Regions from separate parts of the Homo sapiens genome. Here region 2 is linked to region 1. Evidence: fine-mapped QTL for protein levels in blood plasma. A gene starts in region 1. The other region holds a variant in brackets. All regions are shown on one strand. Distances are between the middles of the regions. Region 1 holds the start of HIP1R (huntingtin interacting protein 1 related). Region 2 has its middle 1.9 kb from the start of CCDC62.

Evidence for each region. PIP is the chance, under the fine-mapping model, that this variant and not a neighbour inherited with it causes the effect. The UK Biobank Pharma Proteomics Project read protein levels with antibody pairs (Olink). The fine-mapping took linkage between variants from a reference panel, not from the people measured, so its PIPs are less certain.
Region 2: its variant is fine-mapped to the plasma level of the HIP1R protein (UK Biobank, PIP above 0.99).

The regions. Positions count from the first base shown.
Region 1 is chr12:122,834,015-122,837,031 of GRCh38, forward strand. HIP1R (huntingtin interacting protein 1 related) reads left to right here and starts at 1,443. Exons shown (of 32, transcript NM_003959.3): 1 at 1,443-1,629. The coding sequence starts at 1,537. It overlaps LOC124903040 (a long non-coding RNA gene), which reads right to left and starts at 1,219. Exons shown (of 2, transcript XR_007063501.1): 1 at 1,160-1,219; 2 at 541-824. RefSeq lists an enhancer at 1,045-1,094 and silencers at 1,345-1,584, 1,755-1,954.
Region 2 is chr12:122,771,401-122,773,900 of GRCh38, forward strand. No RefSeq gene overlaps it. Among named protein-coding and RNA genes, the nearest start is that of CCDC62, 1.9 kb to the right of the region's middle. The variant TTTTGTTTG/T (reference allele first, on the strand shown) is at 1,487.

The DNA.
Region 1 (3,017 bases):
GTTCGAGACCAGCCTGACCAACACGGAGAAACTCTGTCTCTACTAAAAATACAAAATTAGCCAGGCGTGGTGGCACATGCCTGTAATTCCAGCTATTTGGGAGGCTGAGGCAGGAGAATTGCTTGAACCCAGGAGGCGGAGGTTGCGGTGAGGTGAGATTGTGCCATTGCACTCCAGCCTAGGCAACAAGAGTGAAGCTCGGTTAAAAAAAAAGAAAAGAAAGAAAGAGAAGAAAAGAAAAGAAAGAAAGAAAGAGAAAGAAAGAAGAGAGAGAAAGAGAGAAAAGAAAGAAAAGAAGGAGGAAGGAAAGGAAAGGGAAAGGGAAAGGAAAGGAAAGGAAAGGAAAGGAAAGGGTCTCTGACCTCAGACAGGTTACAGTCTCACTAGGGAGACAAGGGTCAGGATTACGTGGGCGTCATTTTCCTCCTTACAGGCAGGCGGTGCCTCTCCCTTCAAAAGCAAGGGACCTTTATGCATGATTCCACATCTGCATTCCGATAGGAAAGGGAAACAGCAGAAACACAATACCCATCTGAGAGCTACGCTTAGAGAGGACTCTGGGCTTTTATTTATTTTTTTACTTCAGTCTTGTGACCAGTAATTTTAAGGGAAAGCCAATAATAATGTTTTTAAAAAGCCTCACGCCACCCCTGGCGGCATCTCCTCGGTGTACTTTGCTGTTCAGATCCGCCTGCCTTCTGTGCCAGCCTAACAGCGCCCGGCCTCAGCCCCCATTGTCCCTGGAGCTGGCGAGGTGTCCGGTTGCGGAGCCGGCGGCGTCTCTGGAAATGCATCCTGCATCCCCGCATGGATAACAGCTGCAGCTATGTCAGAATTGCACAAAGAGGGGAGAGTGTCATTGTGTGCCTTTTGACACATACATTAAGACCAAAAAGGAAAAAAAGCGTCTATCTGTGCTGCCACCGACCAGACTCATGGAGGCCAGATTTTCTCCAATTAACCAGATCTTGCCCTGGTGCAGACAAGACTTAGTGAGTTCGGAGGAGGGGTGGGGAGAGGGAATTGGCTGGGGTCCCTACCCTGGGTGGAAGGAGGAGGGAGGGGTTCCCCCTCCCCCTTCCCCTACCCTCCCCTCCGGGTTTAGGGAGGGGATTAGAGGTGGGGAGGAGCTGGGGGGGCGTTTGGCCTGTGCCCCAACCTTGTGAGTGAGGTGGGGGTTGGAGGTGTGCGGGGGGCGGGGCGTGTGCCGGGGTCGCCGCGGGATGGGGGGTTGGGGATGTGCGGGGAGAGGCGCGTGTCCCGAGATCGCGGGGGGTGGGGTTGGAGGTGTGCGGGTGGAGGGGCGCGCCCTGGAGTTGGGGGCGGGCGAGGCGTTTGCGGGCGCGGGGGGCGGGTTTGGAGGTGTGCGGGGGAGGGGCGTGCCCTGGAGTTGGGGGCGGGGCGAGGCGGGCTCCTCCCCGGCGGGCGGGCCCGGGCGCGGCGCGGTGGCCTCGCGGTGCCTAGGCTGGGGCTGCCGGACCGTGAGGCTGTGAGTCGCGCGGACGGAGCCGGACAAAAGCGGGCGGCGGCGGCAGGATGAACAGCATCAAGAACGTGCCGGCGCGGGTGCTGAGCCGCAGGCCGGGCCACAGCCTGGAGGCCGAGCGCGAGCAGTTCGACAAGACCCAGGCGAGCGGGCGGCGGGCGGCGGGCGGCGGGCGGCGGCGGGCGGGCGGGCAAGCGGCGTCCCTGACCCCTCACGCGCGAACGGCTGGGGCCCGGGAGGCGCCGGCCAGGGGCGGGGGACGGCGCGGGGGCAGGGCCTGTGTCCGCCCGGGCTCTCCGAGAGCTCCGCTGCCGCCCCCCGCCGGCCTCCGCGGCCCGAGCCGACCGGCGCGCAGGTGAACCGGAAGCCGCGCTCCCCGCTCCCGCCGGGCGCTCGGGCCCAGAGGCGCCGGGGCTGAGGGGGCCGGGGTCAGGGTGTGCGCGGGCCGGGAGCGCCGGAGCTGAGGCGGCGGGGGACGGAGATGGGGCCGGGGTTGGGTGTGCGCGAGCCCAGCGCGCCGGGGGTCGAGGGGGCTGGGGATCCAGGTGCTCCCGGGGCCGGCGCGGCCCGACTGGGGTCCCCGACCTTCCGTGCCGCTCCTTGCCGGCTCCTGCCCCCGTCTCCTACCCCCTGAAACCGATGCCCCCACGGGCAATTTCCTTAAAGGAAATTCCTTAAACTCCCAGCTTCCTTCTCTCGTGAGCGGTTTCCCAGGGCTGCACAGTCTCCTATTATTTGCTGGGTGAAAAGCTTCTCGTATGTCGCCAGACTTGTTTGCCCGAGCGCTGCCCACGTATAAATAGGTGCACACCCCCTCATTAAATACCGGCGCCCGACAGACAGAAACTTCCTGGGGCTCCCTTCCTGCGCCTCCCACGCTTGTAACTCTTCCAGATGATGCCTATCCTGGGAAGGCGTTAGAAATGAAATAAGGGCGCGGGTGTGCGTTTTGTACTTGTGTTTGTGCCGGGGACCCACGATGCAGACGTTGCTGCGTTTCTGGTTTCCTGTTGCTTTTTATTTTACAAACTCTTGAAGTGCTCTCAGGCTTGGGGGATGGGCGGTGGAGGGGGGCATACTTGTTTATTTGCCAAAATAAGTCAACCAAGACTGAAATGGCTGAAAAATTTTACTCTAGAGATAAAGGAAGCCAGAGGACCCCTCCCACTCCTGTCTAAAGCAGGTTGGTGACATTTGCGTTTGTGGCGGCTATTTGCAAGTTCCGTCCCACTTGTCCTTGCAGAGAGCTATGACTTCTGCGGTTGCCTTCACATCTAGTTAGCACACGCACTCTACAACAGCTTTCGTTTTGAAATGAGAGAGAACGCAGGGAGACCTTCTAACCTTTGTGCTTGGGATTGACCCAGAAAGCGATAATAAATCCTGAGGATATCAAGGCTTTAGAAATGCGAAGTGCTGGAACCCAGGTGGCTGCAAATTACCAATTTAGCCTTGTGATCTTCATCACCATCAACTGGTTCAGCCCGGATAGCCCGTCATTTTAAAAAAATTTAAAGTCACCAATACATAA
Region 2 (2,500 bases), 63 kb before region 1:
TCTCCAAAAAAAAAAAAAAAAAGTACTAGTAGTTCAAAAATTGACTTTACACATTCTCACAGTCTACCATTTTTAGTAAAAAACATGAACCTTTAAGCAGCCTTATAAGAGATTTTCCATGATTAAGCTGGCAACTTTTAATGCAAATACTTTTTGCATATAGTTTGGTAAGTATTTCATTTTTTAAAAACAGATGCTGACAGTAAGTGATTTTAAACTTTTTATTACTACATAAAAGCCAGTCTGTGGTAGCTTTCTCACTCTTAGTTTAAAAGTTGATAAATTACTGTTTTAAAGATGAATTTTACCTTTTAGTTCCCTGTTCTCATTATTTACTAAATTCCTTTACCTAGGAAATCAAATAGGGAGACTGGGAAAAGTTCATTCAGAACTTCAGTTTGGATTAGACTGTGTGAGTATAAAATCAGATGCAGTGTAATTCTTGTAGCTTTCACCTCTGTCATATTTTTAAAGTTATGTATTCTCTTTAATTTTTTTTGTTGTTGTTGTTTTAATGAAAACCTGTGGGGAGCGAAGGTAAAAACTTGAGATTTTTAATTTGTACCTTGCCATCATAATCCTCTTACTATACTCAGTTACTATTTATGAACCATAATCAAAATGAGCCTAATTTCTTACTATTCTAGATACACACAATTTTATTCATTTTTGAGACAGAGTCTCGCTCTGTTGCCCAGGCTGGAACGCAGTGGCATGATCACAGCTCACTGCAGCCTTGATCTCCCAGCCTCAAGTGATCCTCCCACTTCAGCTTCTGGAGTGGCTGAGACCACAGGCACATGCCACCATACCCAGCTAATTTTTAAATTTTTTATAGAGATGGGGGGTCTCCCTATGTTGTCCAGGCTGGTCTCAAACTCCTGAGCTCAAGCTATCCTCCCACCTCAGCCTCCCAAAGTGCTGGGATTACAGGTGTGAACCACCACACCCAGCCTGTACATGTATTTTTACTTGAGTGTCACACATGGTTGCCTGGTGAACAATGGCACTCGAGGACTTTCTAGAAAAATATCAAGTCTTAACAATGGTGAAACCTAAGAAACGTGAATTAAAACACTCCTCACTTCAAAAATTGACATTCAACCCACATTCCTTTACATCTCATCACCACCAACTTACTGCAGTCATCTACTGCTAGACTGTTTTTAGCAAATACCCACCCAGAATTTGCTTTGTTGATTTATTTATTTATTTTTATTTTTTTGCATTTCTGTAATGATCAGGGAAGTAGACCACCTTTTTGTATTTATTGGCTATTTGGTTTTGGGTTTTGGTGGTAGTGGTGGTTGGTGTTTTTTTGTTTTTTTTTTTTTTTGATACGGAGTGTCCCTCTATTGCCTAGGCTGGAGTGAGGTGGCGCAGTCTTGGCTCACTGTAACCTCCATCTCCTGCATTCAAGCGATTCTCCTGCCTCAGCCTTCCGAGTAGCTGGGACTATGGGTGCGCACCACCACACGTGGCTAGT[TTTTGTTTG/T]TTTGTTTGTTTGTTTGATTTTTAGTAGAGACAGGGTTTCGTTGTATTGGCTAGGCTGGTCTCAAACTTCTAATCTCATGATCCATCCTCCTCGGCCTCTCAAAGTGCTGGGATTACAGGCGTGAGCCACCACGTCTGGCCTGATTTTTGTTTTTTTGAGTCAAGGTCTCACTCTCGATCGGACTGGAATGCAGTGGCATGATCACAGCTCATTGGAGCCGCCATCTCCCAGCTCAAGTCAGCCTCGTGAGTAGCTGAGACCACAGGAGTGCACCACCACGCCCAGTTTAAAAAAAAATTTATTTTTTGGCCAGGTGCGGTAGCTCACACCTGTAATCCCAGCACTTTGGGAGGCTGAAGTGGGTGGGTCAACTGAGGTCAGGAGTTCGCGACCAGCCTGGCCAAGGTAGTGAAACCCATCTCTACTAAAAATACAACAAAGGTGGCGTGGTGGCGGGCACCTGTAATCCCAGCTACTCGGGAGGCTGAGGCAGGAGATTTGCTTGAGGCCAGAGGCAGAGTTTGCAGTGAGCCGAGATTGTGCCATTGCACTCCAGCTCAGGCAACAAGAGCCAGACTCCATCTCAAAAAAAAAAAAAAAAAAAGTTTTTTAGAGGTGGGTGTCACCATGTTGCTCAGGCTGGTCTCAAACTCCTGAACGCAACAGATCCTCCTACATTGGCCTCCCAAAGTGCTGGGGTTACAGGCCACTGCGCCCAGCTTTCTTGATTTTAAATTCTAAGACATTGCTTTGGTCTCCCAAACATGAGCCTATCAGTAAAGCTTCAAAATAAGAAATCTTAATTTTGTTTTTCCATTTTCAGATTGTATTTTTTGAACACAAGGGCATGTTTTGGCATTTCATATTCAACCAAAAAGTAAAGTTGAAACCCTGTAAGACCGACCGTATTTAGTAATTGTGTTGCTGTCTGATGGGTTAAGCATTCAGGGATGGGCAGCCGGGGCTGAAGTGTGATAAGCCTTATTTTTTCCTAGTCCCGTTCCC